Linked DNA regions of Homo sapiens: region 1 is linked to region 2. Evidence: fine-mapped expression QTL. A gene starts in region 2. The other region holds a variant in brackets. All regions are shown on one strand. Distances are between the middles of the regions. Region 1 holds the start of LOC107985584 (a long non-coding RNA gene). Region 2 holds the start of CRKL (CRK like proto-oncogene, adaptor protein).

Region 1 (11,166 bases), 220 kb after region 2:
AGGAGAATCGCTGGAACCCGGGAGGCAGAGCTTGCAGTGAGCCGAGATCATGCCACTGCACTCCAGCCTGGGCGCAGAGCAAGACTCCATCTCAAAAGAAAAGAAAAAAAAAAAAAGTAGCACATGTGATCAGAGGGAAAAGACCTAAGATGCTTTAAGGCGGTTTAGGGGAAGATGACAGCAATGAGCTGAGCTCAAGTAGTAAGAATACCAGAATACAGAGTGTGACTTCCCAAATAATCAAACAGAAGGAAAGGGGAGCATTGAAAAATCAGGATCAACATGTTACAAATGGTAGAAATAAATTCAAATATAGTAGAAATAATTTCAAATCACAATACTTGAAAAAAGCAGCTTGTCAAATTGGCAAAGAAAAAAGTGTCAAATGCTATGTACAAGTTTCTGGCAATATGGCAAATTATGTATCCTGAAAAACTAAAAATGCTGTTTACAATACTGGGGAGTGGATCTAAATCCATGAGCTGTAAGAAAGGAAGGAATCTTTGGAGGCTGAAAAGCCAGTCAAGCTCCTACATGACATGGGAGACAGACGACGAACCCACGAGCTTCATCCCTTGAGGAGTTTATTAGGCGACCTTGGTCTACACTCTCAGGAGAGGAGTGCACCAGAAATAAAGCCGGTGCCCTGGAGTCCACCTGGAGCCAGGCGCGGGGCGCTGCACTTAGGTTGGCAGCAGCCCGTTAGCGCGCAGCTCCAGCAGCGGGGACAGCGTGTAGCGCAGGCGGCGCAGCGTCGTCTCCGAGGTGAGGCTCCAGAGCCACGCGGAGACGGCGCCGGGGTCCAACAGCACCGTCCAGAGCAGCGACAGCCCCAGGAAGAGGAGCGGCAGCGTCAGCAGCGCCTGCAGGGCGAAAGGCGGGCAGGTGGGCGGCGGCTCGGGCGGGCACGTGGGGGACCGCGGCCGCGCCCACCGCCCTGCTCACCTGATGGCCAGCGCGCGAGGACCGCCGAACAGCCGCGTCTCCTGCGGGGAGAGAGGGCCGCATCCAGCTACCTCCGCGCCCGCGGCGCCGGCCCGGTTTCCAGGAGGAGGGGGAGGCGGTACCGCGGGGGGGATGGGGAGGGGTGTCCCGCTCCAGCCCACCCCGCCCGGACCCGCGCAGGCGCTCACTCGGTCCGCCCTGGCCATCTCCTCCATGAGCGACTCGGTGCTGTACTGCACTCTGCGAAGCTGCCCGTCACACCTGCGGGGACAGGCATGCAGGTGGGAGCCCAGCCCGGCCCGGCCCCACAGTGCCCCGCCGCGCCCGCAAGCCCAACTCCCTTACAGTTCCCGGCCACTCTGCCAGGCGTCCAGCTCCTCCGCAGCCTCCATCACCTTCACCTGCACCTCCTGGAGCGGGTGAGAGTGCGGACTGAGGCCTCGGGGAGGCGTCCTGGCGGTGGGTTGGGAGACTTACCGCCCCAGGTCTGGGGGAGGAGAGGCGGGAGGCACCTTGGCGTCTGAGTGGGGCCGCACCTGCAGGACTACGGTCTGCTCCTGGAATATGGCCCAGGCCTCCGCTGTCTGCAGCGCGTCCTGGGTGTGGACACCCGGGTTAGACTCGGCGGGGGCGGGGCGACAGGCCCTTCCCCATCCACACTCGAAAGCCTACCCTCCTCCAACAGAACCCGCTTCTGCCCTCACCTGCTGCAGCTTCTCCTCCTGCAAGGCGCATTTGGTCTCCGCCAGCTCCAGTTCATTCTTGAGAAGGACCCAGGGAATGTCAGGAGGTCCGCAGGCCGGCAACCCGCTGCGCCTCCGGGCCCCGCCCCCGGCCCTCAGTGCCCGCCCCCAGGCGATCATGACCCCGCCCACGTCCTCAGGACCAGTCGTAAGCAACGCCCCAGCTGGTCATGGCCCCGCCCCCTCCGCGCTCCGCCCGTATCTAGCCCTCAGGGCCCCGCCCCCAGGCGATTATGCCCCGCCCACATCCCCGCCCCGCCCACGCCTTCAGGGCCTGCCTTAAGCCACACCCCCAGGTGGTCACGGCCCCGCTCACGCTGCTGCTCCGCCCCTACTAAAGACCTCAGGGTCCCGCTCAAGCACCTGCAGCGTCACCAATTGGGCTGCGAGTTGCTGCTCCGTGCTCTTCTGGCTCTGCAGTTCCCCTCCGTAGTAGAAGAGCTAGGGGCGGGGCTCGTAAGGACGGGGTTTACCGGGCTTCTGGAGGAACGAGTGTCAGGGGAGACAGGGACGGGGAGGCAATGAGAGCGAGGGCAAGGGCAGGACTTCCGAGAGGAACCAAGAGACAGGCCCTCCCATCTCCTGCACGTACCTGACTCGACAGCTCCTCCCACTGCCCTGCAGCTGCCTGCTGTGCTGCTCCTGCGGACAGGGTCCTGGGGCGGTGCCGGCCTCACCGCCGGTCCTACCTCACCCCACCCCCGGATCCTGCCCCCTTCCGCCCGCCCTGCCCCACCCCACCCTGGGTCCAGCCCCATTCCAGGACTCTTCCTCACCAAGTCCTCCTTGTGGCGCTCCGCCTCCTCCAGTCTTCTGCGCACCCGCTGCGCGCGCTCCCGCGCCGCCTCGCGCACCTCCCCTTGCAGAAGCAGCGCTTCCTGGCTTCGCCTCCGCAGCAGCCTGCAGAGGGAAACTGAGGTTGGCGCTACAAGGCGGACTGGGTCGCTCAGGATCCCGCAGTCGCCAGGAAGGACCAGCCGCAGGCTCATGATTGAGGACTGGGAAGTCCTGGCCGAGTCCCCCACCTGGGTCCGCTGGGTGGATCACCCGTTCCCAAGGGCCTAGAGCAGAGATGCGGGCCCGGGCGGATCAGCCTGGTACTCTGCGAAGCACCTCGCGGCGCTGCCTGCGGGACCGACCCTCGCGCGCCCGCCAGGTAGAGGGGCGTTCCCCGCGCACCTCCGCTCCCGCTCGCTCAGGTCCTGCAGGCGCTGGTTGAGGCAGGCTCTCGCTCTCGGCCTCGAGCCCGCGCATCAGCTTCTCTAGCTCCTGCTTCCGCTGGCGACCATCTCGGTTATCCTTCTGCAACTGCAGCAGCAGCTCCTGCGTCGCGGCCATGGCTGTGGAGACCGAGCCTAAATGCCGCCCGCCTCGGGGACCCAGCCTGCGGCTGGCAGGCGTCACAATGGGCGGCAGGGAGCGCCTAGCGGGCTGGATCACAATGGGCGGCAGGGGAAGCCCGAGGGTAGCCCGACACATGCCCCTTCTCACGCCGGCCGGAGGCGGGTCAGGCCGGATCACACTTAGTCCATCACTGATGAAAATTGTGTCAAAGAGCCGTAATTAGATCAATGAAAGGTTAATGAAATACTAATACCAAATGCAGGCAAGTTGAAGATTGGTTCCCCCACAGTGCAGATGGCACTTGCAAACTGATCGATCTCTTGTGGAAAAGAACCCATAAATATGTTCGTAACTTTTGACCCAATTATCCCTCTCCTGGGAAATTTATCCCAGGAAGGAGAAAAAATTTAAACCCACTACACACTAAATGGTTCGCTGAAGTGGTTACAGTAGCCACAAAAAAAGGAAACAATTTTAATGATTAAAATGTGCTTGGGTATTATGTGGTATGCCTAGAGCTATTATGATGTCTAGTGAAAAAGAATTTGATTTAGCATTTATGCTAAAGTAACTAAGATAAAATACATGAGCAAGATCCGTAAAGGAAACAGGAAGAAGATAAGCTCTTTCATTGCTTGGTGAGACTGTAGGTAAACTCGTCCTTTTAAGTATTATTATTTTAGAGGCAGGTCCTGCTGTCACCAGGCTGGAGTACAGTGGAACAATCGAAGCTAGCTGCAGCTTCAATCTCCCAGGCTCAAGTGATCCTTCCGCCTTAGCCTCCCAACTTGTCCTTTTAAAATCTGCCTTTATTTGTCCAGTTACAATTATGAACTTGGATGCAAAAATCCAAAATAAATTACTAACAAAATCTAAAGGGAAACAGAAATCCATGGAAACCAAACAGAGTTTATTCCAGGGATTGTTCAACATCAGAAAATCAGTGTTGTTCATCATATGGACAAACAGGGAAGAACTCCACGATCTCAGTGGCGCACTTCAATAGATGCAGAAAACGTGAAGATGAGGGTCACCATCTATTAATAATTTTTTTTTTTTTTCTGAGACAGAGTCTCACTCTGTTGCCCAGGCTGGAGTGCAGTGGCACAATCTTGGCTCACTGCAACCTCCGCCTACTGGGTTCAAGCAATTCTCTGCCCCAGCCTCCGGAGTAGCTGGCATTACAGGCACTCGCCACCACACCCAGCTAATTTTTTTGTATTTTTAGTAGAGACAGGGTTTCACCATCTTGGCCAAGCTGGTTTTGAACTCCTGACCTCGTGATCCACCCACCTCGGCCTCCCAAAGTGCTGGAATTACAGGCCTGAGCCACCTCACCTGACCATCTATTGATAATTCTAAAAGCTCTTTCTTACAAAAGGGAGAGATAAAAGCACTCTCTAGTCTGATAAAGGCCACGGTAAATATTATAGTAAGGAGGAAGTATTAATAGTATATGCTTTTTTTTCTTTTTCTTTTTTTAGAGTCAGGGTCCTGCTGTCACCCTGGCTGGAGTGCAGTGGTACGATCAAAGCCAACTGCAGCAGCCGCAAACTTCAGGGCTCAAGCGATCCTCCCGCCTCTCACCCTATAAGAAGTAGTAGACGGCCGGGCGCGCTTTTAGTCTGGGCGCGGTAGCTCACGCCTGTAATCCAGCACTTTGGGAGGCCGAGGTGGGTGGATCACGAGGTGAGGAGTTCAAGACCAGCTTGGCCAAGATGGTAAAATCCTGTCTCTACTAAAAATACCAAAAAAAAGTTAGCCGGGTATGGTGGTGCTTGCCTGTAGTCCCACCTACTTGGGAGGCTGAGGCAGGGGGAATCGCATGATCTTGGCTCACCACAACCTCCACCTCCCGGGTTCAAGTGATTCTCCTGTCTCAGCCTCATGAGCAGCTGGGATTACAAGCATGCGCCACCACGCCCAGCTAATTTTGTACTTTTAGTAGAGACGGGGTTTCTCCATGTTGGTCAGGCTGGTCTTGAACTCCCAACCTGAGGTGATCCACCTGCTTTGGCCTCCCAAAGTGCTGGGATTACAGGCGTGAGCCCCTGCGCCTGGCCCTACACCCGACTGATTTTTGTAGTTTTAGTAGAGAC[A/G]GGGTTTCACCATGTTGTCCAGGCTGGTCTCAAATTCCTGGCCTCAAGTGATCTGCCTGCCCCGGCTTCCCAAAGTGCTGGGATTACAGGAGTGAGCCACCGTGCCCGGACTAAAAGGTACATTTTTAAAAAAGAGGTGACTTAAGATTTCATAGAAACCAACTTTTTGTAAAACTATGATAAGCCAAATACTTGGACCAGCCCTCACACTGAGAAGTACCAAAAATGCTGACAAAATAAAAGGATGTTTTCTTAAAGGCATCCAGGGGCTGACAAGACAGTGAGGAGCCGCCAGGCACCATCTGGGGAAACCAGAAACCAGAGAGGCGAGCCAAGCCGCTCTTGCCCTGAAAACATCTGCCCCCATCCAGCCACCCCGGGCTTCCGATGAGAACTCTAAGGCTGGTCCCCACCCCACAGAGCACCCCACAGAATTTGGGACTTATGGCCCAAATTCACACCAGTGAGAAGATTCCAAAACCTCACAGTTGATGGATTTAGTTTAAATTGGCTTTAGGCTGACAGCGCCCTGAGGTACCTGGCAGAAGGAAGCGTAAACCTAGTTTGGAGGAAGCATCTTTACCCTAGGTCTGAAAAATTCCCACAAAGTCATTTTTCCAGGACAATGAGTAATGCAGTCAAAAGTAACCACACATTCACGGAAACAATGCCCCATGAGCAAGGACAGAAAAGGCCAGCAGCAGGACCAGATCCAGAGACTCAACATCTCAAAGACCTGAGGCAGACCATGAGGCTCCTCCACTTACCTGTACTCACGGAGGGAACCGATGAGCTTGAAAGTATATGTGACGAACAGCAAACGAGAAAAAAAAATGACCTTGCAGAAAAACAGGTGTAGACATTCTAGAAATAAACAGCATTCAGCCCAATGGGTTTAACAGGAATAGGAGAATAAAAAGAGAATACCTACACTGAAGATACGTCAGAATAAATTATGCTGAATAAAGAAGAGTGAGAGGCCGGGCGCATTGGCTCATAGCCAGGGTCGAGGTCACTCTCTCCCTGAGGACTCTAGCACGGCACAGCCCCTCTGCCTCTCTCCTGGTGGTGGCGTTGAAACAGCACCTTCTGCTTTGGTCCTCTACAGGGTGGCAGAGAAGGAGGCAGTCAATAAGATGTCCCTGCACAACCTTGCCACTGTCTTTGGCCCCATGCTGCTCCGGCCCTCCGAGAAGGAGAGCAAGCTCCCTGCCAACCCCGGCCAGCCCATCACCATGACTGACAGCTGGTCCTTGGAGGTCATGTCCCAGGTGTGGGAAGACAGGCTCCAGCCCATGCAACCCCAGCCTGACAGAGGTGGCCTCTGCCTGCCCCACCCCCAGTCCTGCCCATCTTCCAACTTGCATTGTATGTGGTGGTGGCTGAGATTCAGAGACAGGGACTTGCCTAGGTTTGCATGGATGGGAGTGATAGGGGGAGCCTAGGCCACCTCCTGCTCCTGCTGGTGCACCTTGCTGGGGGCTTAAAACCACCCCAAGTGTTCAGGTGTGGTGGCTCATGCCTGTAATCCCAGCACTTTGGGAGGCCGAGGCAGGACAACTGAACCCAGGTGTTTGAGACCAGTCTGGGAAATGTAGCAAACCCCATCTCTAGAAAAAATACAAAGAAAAATTAGGCAGGCATTGTGGCACACATCTGTAATCCTAGGTATCTGGGAGGCTGACACAGGAGGATTGCTTGAGCCCAGGAGTTAGAGGCTGCAGTGATCCATGATGGAGCCACTGTACTCCAGCCTGGGGGACAGAGCAAGGCCCTGTGCATCTCTAAAATAAATAACCACCCCCCACCCAACAAGTCATGCCTTGTCAGGACCCCACCCCACCCCCGTCTCACTGTAAGGGGTTCATGACACCAGCAGGGGTTTCTAGCACCTGAGGTGGACTTGGGGACTTGGGCCCCAAAGACCTCCCCACCAGCAGCTGTGAGCCCCCCTCTGAGCCACTCTCCTCTTCCCCACTCCGCGAGGGCAGGTCGAGGTGCTGCTGTACTTCTTGCGGCTGGAGGCCGTCCCTGCCCCGGACAGCAAGGGACAGAGCATCCTGTTCTCCACCGATGTCTAAAGGTCCCAGTCCATCTCCTGGAGGCGGACAGATGGCCTGGAAACCTCTGGCTAATCAGGCTATCTGTAGAGTGGGAATCAAGATTTTCTGAGGCATCCTTGGGCCACCCCCAGGTGTCAGGCCATCTGCCAAGAGACAGCGGCCCAAAGCAGAAGGACAGGTGGCCTGGGCAGATCCCGCCCAGGTCTGAAAGCCCCAGGCTGGCCTCAGACTGTGGGTTTTCCATGCAGCCACCTGAGGGCGCCCCAAGCCAGTGCATCTCAGAGGCCAGGCCTGGCCCTGGGAGACAGAGTGAAACCAGTGGTTTTTATGAACTTAACTTAGAGTTTAAAAGATTTCTACTCGATCACTTGTCAAGATGCGCCCTCTCTGGGGAGAAGGGAACGTGACCGGATTCCCTCACTGTTGTATCTTGAATAAACGCTGCTGCTTCATCCTGTGGGGGCCGTGGCCCTGTCCCTGTGTGGGTGGGGCCTCTTCCATTTCCCTGACTTAGAAACCACAGTCCACTTAGAACAGGGTTTGAGAGGCTTAGTCAGCACTGGGTAGCGTTTTGACTCCATTCTCGGCTTGCTTCTTTTTCTTTCCAGGATTTTTGTGCAGAAATGGTTCTTTTGTTGCCGTGTTAGTCCTCCTTGGAAAGCAGCTCAGAAGGCCTGTGAAATGTCGGGGGACAGGACCTCCAGGGAGGGAATCCCAGGCTACGCACCTTAGGGTTCGTTCTCCAGGGAGAGCGACCTCGTCCCCCGATCCTGACCGCCCTTCCGGCCCACGCTCTCCTGTTTGGCTTCCACAGGCCTGGACTTCTCTGGCTTCTCTGCCCACACACTCCCTGCCCCCAGTGTCCCTGCCCCTGCCCCAGCACAGGTGACTTCATTTCTGTCCTCTCAGCTCAGTGGACTCGCTCAACTTTTGTATAAGTCTCCACTTGGTGGTAGCAGCTTGCTGATGACTTGTTTTAAAACTTTCATCCTAAATAACCTTTTGATACTTGAATATTTGTAAGTTTTATACATAGTTTCTAATTTTTTCCCCAACAGATCCAGATACCTAATAAGATGCTGGAATGTAATCCCTGGACAATCCGTGTCCTGGCAGCATTTGGTCTTCCTCTAAGCGCCTGGCTCCGCTGTTCTCAGGAGTGGGTTCTGAAGTCTCTGGAGAACAGGATACGTGGAGGGTTAGGAAGGGGCCAGGCCTAGAGACGGGAGACTCCCTCCCGGAGCAGGTGGAGGCACAGGACCATTCGCTACCCCATCTGCCGGCACCTGCGGGGGAGCCCAGGCATTGTTTGTAAACCCTCCTGACTACCTGACTCAAAGAAAACAGAAGCATGGAGGCCGCCAAGTATTTTCAAGAAATAATCCCATGAACGTGGCATCACTTTTTTAGAAAGAGGGGCTTGGGGCAGGCAGAGGAGAGAAGGGAGAGCAAACTGAGAGCCAAGTTTCCAGACGGTCCTGCAGGAGGAGAGGATGCAGCTGCGCAGAGGGAAGCAGGATCACATTTAAGGAAGTGTGTGGGGTCCCTGGATGACACCAGCACCCAGTACGGCTCTGTCTGGCAACCGCTCCCAAGGTGGCAGGAGTGGGTGTCCCCTGTGTGTCAGTGGGCAGCTCCTGCTGAGCCCGCAGCTTACTGGGGAGCCTGACAGCAGGGATATGTACCTGACACTCCTCTCTGCTTGTGGACCTGATGAGGCAGGGAGCAGAAAACAGAGCCACTTGAAGGCTTTCTGTCTGCGTCTTTGTGCAGTGTGGATTTAGTTGTGCTTTTTTCTTGCTGGGAGAGCACAGCCACCATTTACAAGCAGTGTCACCCTCATGGGTGGTGAGGACAGAACAGGAGCCTCTGCTCTCTGTACCTATCTGGGCCCAGTGGGCTCCCCTGTCCTGGCTTCCATCTCTGTCTCAGTGACCATTCAGCCCTGCGCAGGAACACATGTTGCTTAGAAAAGCCAAATCCAGCCCTTGTCTCTGCCTCCTCTGGTCTCATGATGTGCATCTGTTACCTTGAAACTGGAAACCAGTCTATCAATGTCTGTGCCAGTTTTTTATTCCCTCCCCAACCTCCTTCCCCATACGACTTTTTATTTATGTAGGATGTGTGCTGTCTAATGATGGGATGACCACACTTTTCCATGTTCTAAAAGTGCTTCTCTCCCGCAGGGTCCCAGGGCTGGTGGTTGCTTTGGGTCTACAGCTACGTCTTACCCGCCTCCTGCCTCAACAGCCTGTGTGGTGGCAAAGCCGGTGTGGGGCTGGGGAACGCAGCGTTCTCCAGGAGGGGGACCCGGCTCTCCTTCTGCAGTGCAGGCGAAGGCCTAGATGCCAGTGTGACCTCCCACAAGGCGTGGCTTCCAGACTCCCCGGCCGGAAGTGATGCTTTTTTGCCGCGGGCCCTGGGTTTGAAGCAGCCTGGCTTTCTCTTGGTAAGTGGCTGGTGTCTCAGCAGCTGCAATCTGAGCTCAGCCACCTACACACCACCGTGGCCAACACTTTCATTAAAAAGTTTCCTGAGACGACTTGCGTGCATGTTGACTTCATGATCAGCGCCGCTGGGAAGAACCCCTGAGCTTGTGGGGTGGGGCTGGAAGCAGCAGGTGCAGTGATGGGGCTGGGTGCCCAGGAGGCCTCAGTGCTCAATCAGGCCAAGGTGGCCAAGCCCAGGCTGCAGGGAAGGCCGGCCTGGGGGGTGCGGGTGAGCACAGGCAGGCACCAGCTGGGCAGTGTTAGGATGCTGGAGCAGCATCCGTAACTCCACTGAGTGGGGTAGTCTGGTTGGGGCAGGGACCGCTGTTGCTTTGGCAGAGAGAGATGATCCCCACTGGGGAGAGGCTGTTCTGACTCTGCAGGTGGGACAGGGACAGATGGCCACCAGGGTGACCCGGCTGGTCTTCCTTTGCTATGCTAAGCCCTGGGACATGGAGGATTCCTGCCACACAGCCTGGGCCCGGGTTCTTACCTGTGGCCACCGCTCTGGCACGAGCCCCTCAGTCTTGGGTGGTTTCTGCCTGGTCCGGGATTTGGTGTTGCTGCTGACTCCAGCCTTTCCACCACCTCTGCATGGGCCGTGGGTGTTGTCAGCTGCCTCCTGCCTTGGCTTCAGTAGCTCACCCAGCTTACAGGGGAGCTGCCCTGGGCTGGAGATGGGCACGCACCCTGGGTCCTACTTGAATGAATGCAGCTTGAGGAGACCCGGCCATATACACTGGGCCACAGGTTACCCTCGGCAATGCCCACATCAGCCGTCAGCCTGAGCCTCCCCAGGAGAGCAAGGCTCACACGACAAAGGCTGCCCGTGGCCAATGAGGTGGCTGAGCCCAGCCAGGACCTTTCTCGGACTCCCGGGATGTGGCTCTGCTCGTGAGCTGCCTGGTCAGCTCTCTCGGGGTGAGAGGGGCTTGTCACACGGGCCTCTGCCTGCAGTGTGACCCTTCTCAGCTTCTCTCAGCAGCCCTGCCTGCGGAGTGTCACCGCCACCATGATCATTTCCCTGACACAGCGAGGGTGGGGGGACGTCCTGGGTAGAGACAGGGCCCGTGGCAGCAGCAGGCTCAGGGGCGCCCTGCACTGGTGGGCTGGGGACCTGGTGGAGACCACGCCAAGGGCTGGACAAGGGGACGAGCCTCCACCCTGGCCTCTCCGCAGGCCTCAGCAGCCCCTCCCACAGGCAGAAGGGTTGACACTGGGTTCTGCCCTCACTGCAAGAGCTGCAAGTGCCACGTGCTGTTCTGCCCAATCTGGTGTCTGCAGGTGAGGGAAGGGCTGCCGCTGGCCCGTTTCTGAGTGTTCAGCACCTAAGGGTGACAGCACTGTCTGTCCCTACCCTCCAGGTCCTGTTTGAAGATCAAACCCATGCTCACAGGCCAATTTTTTTTTTCTTTTAGAGACAGGGTCTCACTTTGTCACCCAAGCTGGAGTGCAGTGGTGCGATTATAGCTCAATGCAGCCT
Region 2 (11,166 bases):
GGTTGCAGGCGCCTGTAGTCCCAGCTACTCGGGAGGCTGAGGCAGGAGAATGGTGTGAACCCAGGAGGCGGAGCTTGCAGTGAGCCGAGATCGCACACTCCAGCCTGGGCGACAGAGCAAGACTCCGTCTCAAGAAAAAAAAAAAGAAAAAAGAAAGAAAGAAAAGAAACACACTCCCAACACAATGGACTTTCTCACCTCAGGACATCTACATAAGCTTTTCCCTAAACTTGGAAGGCTCTTCTCCTCCTCTCAGGCCAAGCCTTGCCTAGGCTGGGTTCTTCTTTACCCTCAGGTCTTAGCTTCATGCTTTCTCTGACCACGCCACCCCAGGTAGGTCCCTCCTGTATATTGATCTTACTAGTACTTTATTTTTCTACTTTTCAGTCTGTCTTCTCCACTACAGTAGGAGTTCCACAGGAAGAAAGTATGTCTGTCACACATCTTTCCCAGTACCTACACTGGGTTACACTGGGTTATAATTCTCTTATAAACATTTGAATAAAAATATAAAATTAAAAATTATGAAGCATTCTAATGAAAAGGATAAGACTATAACAATGCAAGCCACCAGTCCTTAAATTTCGAGTAGGACATTATTGTTACAAATTTTAGCTATGCAAGATAAACCAAAATATTAGCCAAGAGGCATGAAACTCTGGCTTTAAAAGCTCAGTTTTGATGCCTGCAAAGTTAAGCCACTAAATGTACCCTGTTTGGGATGCGAAGAAGCATTACACTGAGTTTTCCGTTTGGCCCAGGCTCTAGTAGTCACTAGCTTTCTATAAAAGGCTAATAACATGTTAAACCTAAGCCATGAAAACCAGGCTTGGGAGTGGCAATTCGAAGATTCAGTATAACAAAGTAAACTCAGTCAGGATCTAATTCAACCAGCATGGTGATCTCCTTCAGAGATACCTAGGAAAATGAAAAACTAAATTAAAGCAACAGGCCTGAGGCAGAGGGCACAGAGAAGGAGAAACAAAGCTGAACGTGAGGGGTAGGGTCAGAGAAAGGCCCTATAATCTGTGAGGGGACTGGAACAACAGGTAGGATTTCAACAGATGGAGAGTGAGGTGTAGTTAAGGCAGTCAGTGAAGAGCCAACAGCTGGAGCAAAGGTGCAAAGGTACAAAGGTATGAGTAAGGAAGGATGGCTACCAGGGAATAAGTGAGCAGCCTAGTACAGCTGCAGTAAAGGAAGGACGAAAGAGGGCAAAGACAGAATTACATGCTTGTTCTCTAAGAAGATGCATGCATGTACGGAAAATCTGGAGGCGATTCTGTGGATAGAGAGAAGCGGCATACTTCTTTTCCTTCCTCTAGAAGGAGACTCAAGTCATTAACTTTTTCCTTTTTTTTTTTTGAGACAGAGTCTCACTCTGTCACCCGGGCTGTGCAGTGGCGCGATCTCGGCTCACTGCAACCTCCGCCTCCCGGGTTCGAGCGATTCTCCTGCCTCAGCCTCCCGAGTAGCTGGGATTACAGGCACCCACCACTACGCCCAGCTAATTTTTTGTATTTTTAGCAGAGACGGGGTTTCACCATGTTGGCCAAGATGGTCTTGAACTCCTGACCTCGTGATTCGCCCGGCTTGGCTTCCCAAAGTGCTGGGATTACTGGCGTGAGCTACCACACCCGCCCATTAACTTGCTTTTTGAAACAGCTGTATTATTAGTACTCATGACCTCAACATAAGCATATGCATGGCTTAATGAATGCCTGGTATTAATTATATAATTCACGCTCACAAACGAGAGGAAGAATTTATTCAGTCATATTACAAATCTCACTACAGTGGGTTCTAAGATTCTCAACTCCTTAAATTGGAATTATATTGTGCTCAAAGTTGACTGCAACTACCAGCATCTGCCAGGAACCGCAGGTTTCACCAATCAGATTCTTGGTGTCCTGGTCTTTGTTATACAGTATTTGATTTATAATCACTTTCTCCCCACTTTTAAAGTCCATTTAGTTCAGTAGTTAATCTTGTAGTCATTATACTGTCATGGCTTTTTTTTTTCTATCTCTATCCCACTATGCAAACAGTTGGTGTCCTCAATTATAATAGCTTTTAATGTTTAAAGTTTAGAGTAATACCCGGTCGACAAATCCATAAAGTCATAAACATCTAACCCTGGAAAAACTGTATCAACACCCAGTCCTTTTAAAATAGATGTTTAAGAAACGAACTGGCCAGTTTGTTACTTTAAAAATTCTAGGCAACTTTTCAACTCAAATTTGGGATAATTTAAATAAAAGAAACCTCTGATAAAATCAGTGTTACAGGGCAAACACAACAATAAAAGCAAATCTCTGCTAAAACGCTTAAGGCAAATTAAAGCAACTAATCAATTAAAATAACGTATTTCACTTGGAAAAGAGAATGCTTGGTCACTTTGCGTTAATTTTAAAATAAGAAATACAAAATCATTAGACTTAACACAAAAAGCATGTCTGAAATTGAACTAGGATACAACTAAGTGTCATTCAAAAATTTTCCTTAATAACATTCTAGCCTAATTCCACCTTGGAAATTAACCAGACTGATCTCTGGCCTACTAATGGTCCTCGGGGAGAAAATATGCAATAAATTTTCCAAAAAATATCCTCGCTGAAGCCAATGCACCTTCTCTTATCTTTGTAATTAACGTACTATAAAAGTGGTGGTGTCTGGCCTGCTTCAAACTTGGCACCACAGTATCAATATACAGTTCTGATATTTTGGTTAAAGGTTTTTTTGTTTCTAAACGCTAAAGCATTTTCATTTTTTTGACTGTTCCAAAGGCTGCAGTCCTGGAGTTCTTAACCTGGAGTTCAGAGATCTGGAGGGAGTACAAGCACCCGGGATGGTGTGCAAACTTGTGTGTACGTGCCTTTGGCGGGGAGGGGTGGGGGTGGGGGTGGGGGTGGGGTGGTGAGTGCTCGGCTATCTTCAGATTCTCAAAGAAGTCTATGGCTTAAAAACGGTTTTTGGCCGGGTGTGGTGGCTCACGCCTGTAATCCCAGCATTTTGGGAGACCGAGGCAGGCGGATCACGAGGGCAAGAGATCGAGACCATCCAGGCCAACATGGTGAAACACCGTCTCTACTAAAAATACAAAAATTAGCTGGGTGTGGTGGCGTGAGCCAGTAGTCCCAGCTACTCGGGAGGCTAAGGCAGGAGAATCGCTTGAACCCGGGAGGCGGAGGTTGCAGTGAGCCGAGATCGCACCACTGCACTCCAGCCTGGCGACACAGCGAGACTCCGTCTCAAAAAAAAAAAAAAAAAAGAGGTTTTTAGAAAAACCAACAAATCCCTGCATCAGTATTACACCCAGAGAAAGTCACGAAAGGCAAAAAGCGTGCATTTTAACTATGCAACCACCGTTAAACATTCAAAACGCATCCTCTTCACATTGAGAAACAGCCTCGTGAGAGGGAAAAAAAAAAAACGCATCCTCTTATCCAGTGACCCAGATCCTGACACTAGCTTTCTGTTAGGAAGGCCTTCTGGAAAATAATTTGGTTCAGAATGCGGGGAATATGGGTTCAAGCGCGCCCCACCCCCCTATACAAGCACTCTTCGACAGACCCGGTTCTCGACCTTCCTCCGCGGTCGGGGAGGGCTCTCGCGTACCTGGGCGCAGGCTCGATGAGGGTGGTGGTGTCCAGGTAGTGGATCTTGTAAAACTCCAGCAGGGCCGGCAAATGGTCAAATTCCTGGTCCCCGATCTTAAAACGGCGGTTGGGCAGCGAGTTGATGATGTAGTGGGAGACCCGCGAGTTCTCGGACACCGACAGCACATAGTCCCCAGGGCAGGTGGAAGAATCGCGGACGAGGAACATACCGTGGCGCTGGCCCTGGAGCCGGGTCTGCGCCTCCTGGCGAGACACCGGCCCCATATACCAGGCGGAGCGGTCCGAGGAGTCGAACCTGGCGGAGGACATGGTGTTGGACCGGGGACTCTGCGGCGGTAGGGGCGGCGGCTGTCCTCGCCTGCTCTGCACGCCTTAGCCCGGCAGACGGCTTTGGGGCCGAGGAAGGGCCTCTCGCACACCTCGAGGAGCGCTCAGAGGGCTGGGCCAGCACTTTCCTCTCGGCTCCGGGCCCGCAGCATCCTCCGACGCCGCCCGCCTGCTCCGGGGCCGCCACACGGAGAGAGCCGCCCGGGAATGCACGGCAGAGCCGGGGGGTCGGGGCAGGCAAACCCGAGCCGCAGCGGAGGCCACCCCGGGGTTCTCGGGCTGCTCGGCGTCCCAGGGGTGCCTCCAGTGACTCCCGGCCTGGAACGCGCCGGCGCCGCAGCTCGACGGGTCTTCACCGACCCCCGCCGTCACACGAGGCACCGAACTCGAAGGAGCGTCGCGCCTCCGGGGTGCTTTTGCCCAGCTTGTTCCCAATAGCCACAGCAACAAAATGGCGGACGCGGGAGAAGCGGCAGCCACCTCCCCCTCCGCTCAGCGCGCTCCGTCTGCGCACGCGCTGGGCCCCGGCTCCCGGCGGCCGCCGGGGCCCTCCCGTTACGTCACACAGCGCAGCCAATCAGGAGCACCGTCGCGACGATCAGGGTGGGCGCTGGTCGCGCCCGCTCCCGCGTTCCAGGAGGAGGCTGAAGAGGCGCCGGCGGTAGGCACTCTCTTCCTGGGCCGCTGCGCGCCGCTGGGGGCGCTGCGGCTGCCGGGTCTCCCAGCGCTGGCAGGAAAACAGCTGGAGCCGAGAGGGAACCGCGTTTCGAAAACCTGCTTCTGGGAACAAAGCGTAACGTGCAGGCTGAATCGCGGGCCAGGGAGGCGTGGCACTGAGGCGACCTGGCCAGCCTAGGGGCCTGAGGGAGGTCAAGGACTGACAGGTCCCGATGGGCCGAGGTGGCCCAGTAAAAGGATGAGCCCAGGGGCAGATGTGACCACCAGATAGGTGACTGACTGAATGACTCAGTCCCCAGGTGGCCTGATAGGCTAAGGAAGCCCTAGTGGCTACGTGACCCGCTAAATGGAGTGAGAGGAGAGAGAAGGTGAGGGTTAGATTGACTCAATTAAGTGGTCAAGGAAGTCCACAAGTGGGTAACCTGGCTATCATGGGCTCTGAACTGCTGAAAGTAAAATACAAATGCCTCTCGGGCGTGGCCCCGAGGCTTCCCCTGCCCCGGATTATGCCTGCTTCTGCCTATTTATTAATCCCTATTTGTTTTTGTTTGTTTTCTTTCTTTCTTTCTTTCTTTCTTTCTTTCTTTCTTTCTTTCTTTCTTTTCTTTTTTCTTTTCTTTTCTTTCTCTCTCTCTCTCTCTTCCTTTCCTTTCCCTTTCCCTTTCCTTTCCCTTTCCCTTTCCTTTCCTTCTTTCGACGGAGTCTCGCTCTGTCACCAGGTTGGAGTGCAGGGGCGCGATCTCGGCTCACTGCAACCTCCGCCTCCCGGGTTCAAGCGATTCTCCTGCCTCAGCCTCCCGAGTAGCTGGGATTACAGCTGTCCGCCGCCATGCCCTGCTAATTTTTGTATTTTTAGTAGAAACGGGGTTTCACCATGTTGGCCAGGCTGGTCTCAAACTCCTGACCTCAGGTGATCTGCCTGCCTCAGCTTCCCAAAGTGCTAGGATTACAGGCGTGAGCCACCGTGCCCAGCCTGTTTGTTTTATTTTGTTTGTTTTTGAGACAGGTTCTCCTTCTGTCACCCAGGCTGGAGTGCAGTGGAACTATCATGGCTCACTGCAGCCTTGATTTCCCCATCTCAAGGGATCCTCCCACCTCAGCCTTCCGAGTAGTTGGGACTACAGGCTCGCGCTGCCATGCCCAGCTAATTTTTTTGATTTTTTTTTTTTTTTTTTTTTTTTTGAGACGGAGTCTCGCTCTGTCGCCCAGGCTGGAGTGCAGTGGCGGGATCTCGGCTCACTGCAAGCTCCGCCTCCCGGGTTCACGCCATTCTCCTGCCTCAGCCTCCCAAGTAGCTGGGACTACAGGCGCCCGCCACTACGCCCGGCTAATTTTTTGTATTTTTAGTAGAGACGGGGTTTCACCGTTTTAGCCGGGATGGTCTCGATCTCCTGACCTCGTGATCCGCCCGCCTCGGCCTCCCAAAGTGCTGGGATTACAGGCGTGAGCCACCGCGCCCGGCCTTTGATTTTTAATAGAGACGAAATCTCACCATGTTGCCCAGGCTCGTCTCAGACTTTTGAGCTCAAACAATCCTCCCCCTCAGCCAAGATGTGAGCCACCCCGCCCAGCTATGTATGAAACAAGTTAATATATGCAAAGTGCTTAGAATAGTACCTGGCACATAGTAAGCATCATATGAGTCTTCCATTATTATTATTCAGTCATTCCCTGGGCCTCTACCTCTATACCCTAAAACCCTGAGCATACACCCTCAGTGGGTGGGTGAGGGTGGAGAGAAAAATCTCCACTTTGTTTTCTAACTACTTTTCACTGTCAGATTTACCACTTCATAATCACCTGCTCCTTGCCCAGCCCTTTTTTTTTTTTTTTATTCTGATACGGACTCTAGCTCTGTAGCCCAGGCTGGAGGAGTGCAGTGGCGTGATCTCAGCTCACTGCAACCTCTGCCTCCCAGGTCCAGGTTCAAGCAATTCTCCTGCCTCAGCCTGCCAAGTAGGTGGGATTGATTACAGGCATGCACCACCATGCCCAGCTAATTTTTGTATTTTTAGTAGAGACAGGGTTTCACCATGTTCGCCAGGCTGGTCTTGAACTCCTGACCTCATGATCCTCCTGCCTCAGCCTCCCAAAGTGCTGGGATTACAGGCGTGAGCCACCGCCTGTAATCCTAGTGGTGATTTTTTAATTTTTAAATTTTTTGTAGAGATGAGGTCTCACTGTATTGCCCAAGCTGATCTGGAACTGCTGGGCTCAGGTAATCCTCCCAGCTTGGCCTCCCAAAGTGTTGGGATTACAGACGTGAGCCACCCACCCAGCTGCTCAACCTTCTTAATCTGGCTTCTACCCATGCTTTGACTGAATTAGGCTTTTTGGGTTTTGTTTTGTTTTTAAAGACATGTCTCTCTGTTGCTGACTCTCGTCTCAAATTCCTAGGCTCAAGTAGTCCTCCTGCCTCAGCCTCCAAAGTAGCTAGGATTACAGATGTGAGCCACAGCAACCCGCTCTCTGCCCTCTAAATGCAGAGCGTCCTTCACCTCTCCATAGTTTTTCCTTTAGTAGGCTAATAATCAGCATGAAGCATTTAGGGGTCACATCTCTGGTGACTCCAAACACATATTCTAAAAGCAGAACCAAAACTGACCATACTCTCTGATTACTATGTATACACTGTGGGCACAGCCTAAATTAATTTTTATCACATTCTATTGTAATTGTTCATAAATATTTTTCTCATCCCAATCTGAGCATCTTGAGGGCAGCCTGCTATATATTATTTTTTCTATTCCCAGTACCTAGCACATAATACATACTTTTTTTTTTTTTTGAGATGGGGTCTCATTCTGCTGCCCAGGCTGGAGTGTAGTGGTGCAATCTCGGCTCACTGCAACCTCTGCCTTCTGGATTCAAGTGATTCTCCTGCTTCAGCCTCCTGAGTAGTTGGGATTACAGGCACGCGCCACCATGCCTGACTAATTTTTGTATTTTTAGTAGAGATAGGGTTTCACCATGTTAGCCAGGCTGGTCTCGAACTCCTGACCTCATAATCTGCCCGCCTTGGCCTCCCAAAGTGCTCGGATTACAGGTGTGAGCCACCACGCCCAGCCGATACATACTTAATGTATGGTTTTTGAATGTAGATGGATAAAGATGGGAGGAAGCCAGAGAAAAATGATAATTGAACATTAGCTGCTGGCTCACTCCCTTTTCAGCAGCCCTCTTTGCCTCAGCCCTCTTTGCCTCATCTTTTCAGGGTGTACTATCTGTCTATATAAACTATCTGCTCTTGGCCAGGTGCAGTGGCTCACACCTGTAATCCCAGCATTTTGGGAAGGTGAAGCAGGTGGATCCTTTGAGGCCAGGAGTTAGAGACCAGCCTGGACAACATTGCAAAACCCCATCTCTATTTTAAAAAAAGTAAAAACATTCTTTTTTTCGAGACAGAGTCTCACTCTGTTGCTCAGGCTAGAGTGCAGTGGCGTGATCTCGGCTCACTGCAACCTCCGCCTCCCTGGTTCAAGTGATTCTTCCTGCCTCAGCCTCCTGAGTAGCTGGGACTACAGGCGCATGCCACAACACCTGGCTAATTTTTGTATTTTTTAGTAGAGACCAGGTTTCAACATATTGGCCAGGCTGGTCTTGAACTCCTGACCTCGCAACCCGCCCACCTTGGCCTCCCAAAGTGCTGGGATTACAGGAGTGAGCCACGGCACCCAGTCAATGTAAAAACATTGTAAAAATAAACTCTCTGCTCTCTATTTTCCTTAAATAAACTCTCTTTTTAGAAAAAAGTAAAGTCCGGGCACAGTGGTTCACACCTGTAATCCCAGCACTTTGCAAGGCTGAGGTGGGCAGATCACTTGAGGTGAGGAGTTCAAGACCAGTCTGGCCAACATAGTGAAACCCTGTCTCTACTAAAAATACCAAAATTAGCTGAGCATGGTGGCGCTCACCTGTAGTCCCAGCTACTTAGGAGGCTGAGACAGGAGAATAGCTTGAACCTGGGAGGCGGAGGTTGCAGTGAGCCAAGATTGTGCCACTACCCTCCAGCCTGGGAGACAGAGTGAGACACCATCTCAAAAAAAAAAAAAAAAAAAGAACCAAATATCTCTCATTTTGCTTCTAAATACTCCAGAGGGGAATAAGGTGTGGGTTAGATAAAAGTGAAACAAGAATGGCCATGTGAGATTGATAATTATTGAAACCAGGTGACATGATGCGAGGGTAGGGTTAATTATATTCTATAATACTTTTATGTATGTTTGGAATTTGTCATAATAAAATTTTTGTAAAAGATACTTTCCTTTATTTTTCCTTAGCACAGTTGAGACAAGCATAAAATAAACTTTCCAGGCTGGGCATGTTGGCTCATGCCTGTAATCCCAGCACTTTGGGAGGCCAAGGTGGGTAGATCACTTGAGCCCAGGTGTTCAAGTCCCAGCTACTCAGGAGGCTGAGGTTGGGGGATCATCTGAGCCCAGGAGGTCGAGGCTGCAGTAAGCCTTGATTGTGCCACTGCACCTCAGCCTAGGCAACAGAGCAAGACCCTGTCAAAAACATTCCAAAAAAAGTTACTAAATGCTGAGATAGCAAAACAGCAATGAGTAGAGAAACAGAAAGAAACCATTAAAAAAGCTGTAATAGGCCGGGCGCAGTGGCTCATGCCTGTAATCCCAGCACTTTTGGAGGCCGAGGTGGGTGGATCACGATGTAAGGAGATCAAGACTATCCTGGCTAACATGGTGAAAACCCATCTCTACTAAAAATACAAAAAATTAGCCGGGCATGGTGGCAGGCGCCTGTAGTCCCCGCTACTCGGGAGGCTGAGGCAGGAGAATGGCGTGAACCCGGGAGGCGGAGCTTGCAGTGAGCCGAGATTGCACCACTGCACTCCAGCCTGGGCGATAGAGCCAGACTCCGTCTCAAAAAAAAAAAAAAAAAAGCTGTAACATATAGATTTTGATTCTTCCTTAGCTTGCATATTCCCAGGGTTTCTAGATGGTATTATACTTAAACTCTTGTCTTCTAAAATAATTACAATCGCCAGACCAGCTGCGGTGGCTCATGCCTGTAATCCCAACACTTTGGGAGGCCGAGATAGGCAGATCAGCTGAGGTCAGGAGTTCAAGACCAGCCTGGCCAACATGGTGAAACCCCGTCTCTACTAAAGACCAGGCATGGTGGCACATGCCTGTAGTCCCAGCTACTGGGAAGGCTGAGGCAGGAGAATCGCTTGAGCCCAGGAGGTGGAGGTTGCAGTGAGCCGAGATCGCACCAATGCACTCCAGCCTTGGTGACAGAGTGAGACTCCGTATCAAAAAATAATAGCTACAGTTGCCACGTGTGGTGGCTCATGCCTGTAAACACAACACTTTGGAAGTCTGAGTCAGGAGGAGTGCTTGAGCCTAGGAGGTTGAAGCTGCAGTGAGCCCCAGATCATGCCACTGTATTCTAGCCTGGGTGACACAGTGAGACTGTGTCTCAAAAAAAAAAAAAAAAAGGGCTGGGTGTGGTGGCTCACACCTGTAATCCCAGCACTTTGGGAGGCCAAGGCAGGCAGCTCACCTGAGGTCAGGAGTTTGAGACCAGCGTGGTGAAACCCCATCTCTACTAAAAATAGAAAAATTAGCGAGGCATGGTGGCGTGCGCCTGTAGTCCCAGCTACTCAGGGGGCTGAGGCAGGAGAATCACTTGAACCTGGGAGGCAGAGGTTGCAGTGAACTGAGATTGCGCCACTGCACGCCAGCCTGGGTGACTGAGAGAGACTCTGTCTCAAAAATATATATATATTTTTATCATGGATTAGTTTCAGATGAATAATGTCATAAATAACCATAGGCTCTAAACACCTTATATTTTCCAGGGCTTTATAAATTTGCTCAACTAAGCCTTTTTCTGCTTCATACATGATTACCACCATCACTTGTTACCCATTTTAGCAGATTCCACTTTGGGTTATACTGAATTATTGTTTTCTCAACTTAAAAAGAATACGTATATATATAATGCACACACACACACACACATATATATGTAAAAACTCTGCAAGGCAGGCATTTGGTGCTGGGCTCTTACCTGTTCACTTGCCATTACTGAGGGAATCCTGGTTAGTTTCTTTTCCTCTGCTGACTAATATGCTTAAATTCAGCTGGTCATCACGTCTGGTCTGAGTTCAAGTCTTTTATTTATTTATTTTGTTATTGTTTGTTTGTTTTTTTGAGATGGAGTCTCGCTCTGTCGCCCAGGCTAGAGTGCAATGGCATGATCTCGGCTCACTGCAACCTCTGCCTCCTGGGTTCAAGTGATTTTCCTGCCTCAGCCTCCTGAGTAGCTGGGATTACAGGCGCGCGCCAACATGCATGGCTAATTTTTGTATTTTTGTAGACACTGGGTTTCACCATGTTGGGCAGGCTGGTCTTGAACTCCTGACCTCAGGTGATCCGCCTGCCTCGGCCTCCCAAAGTGCTGGGATTACAGGTGTGAGCCACCACACCCGGCCTATTTATTTATTTTTGAGACAGAGTCTCACTCTGTCACCCAGGCTGGAGTGCAGTGGCATGATCTTGGCTCAGTGCAACCT

What was found. PIP is the estimated chance that this variant, and not a neighbour inherited with it, causes the effect.
Region 1: its variant is fine-mapped to the expression of CRKL in whole blood (TOPMed, PIP above 0.99).

What each region holds. Positions count from the first base shown.
Region 1 is chr22:20,694,008-20,705,173 of GRCh38, reverse strand. LOC107985584 (a long non-coding RNA gene) reads right to left here and starts at 9,638. Exons shown (of 2, transcript XR_007068010.1): 1 at 9,426-9,638; 2 at 8,245-8,369. It also overlaps the pseudogene BCRP5 and the pseudogene TMEM191A. RefSeq lists silencers at 1,506-1,655, 2,386-2,455 and enhancers at 1,375-1,947, 2,046-2,155, 7,826-8,442. The variant A/G (reference allele first, on the strand shown) is at 5,132.
Region 2 is chr22:20,910,698-20,921,863 of GRCh38, reverse strand. It overlaps CRKL (CRK like proto-oncogene, adaptor protein), which reads right to left and starts at 4,457. Exons shown (of 3, transcript NM_005207.4): 1 at 3,619-4,457. The coding sequence starts at 3,929. RefSeq lists an enhancer at 3,741-3,800 and a silencer at 4,091-4,540.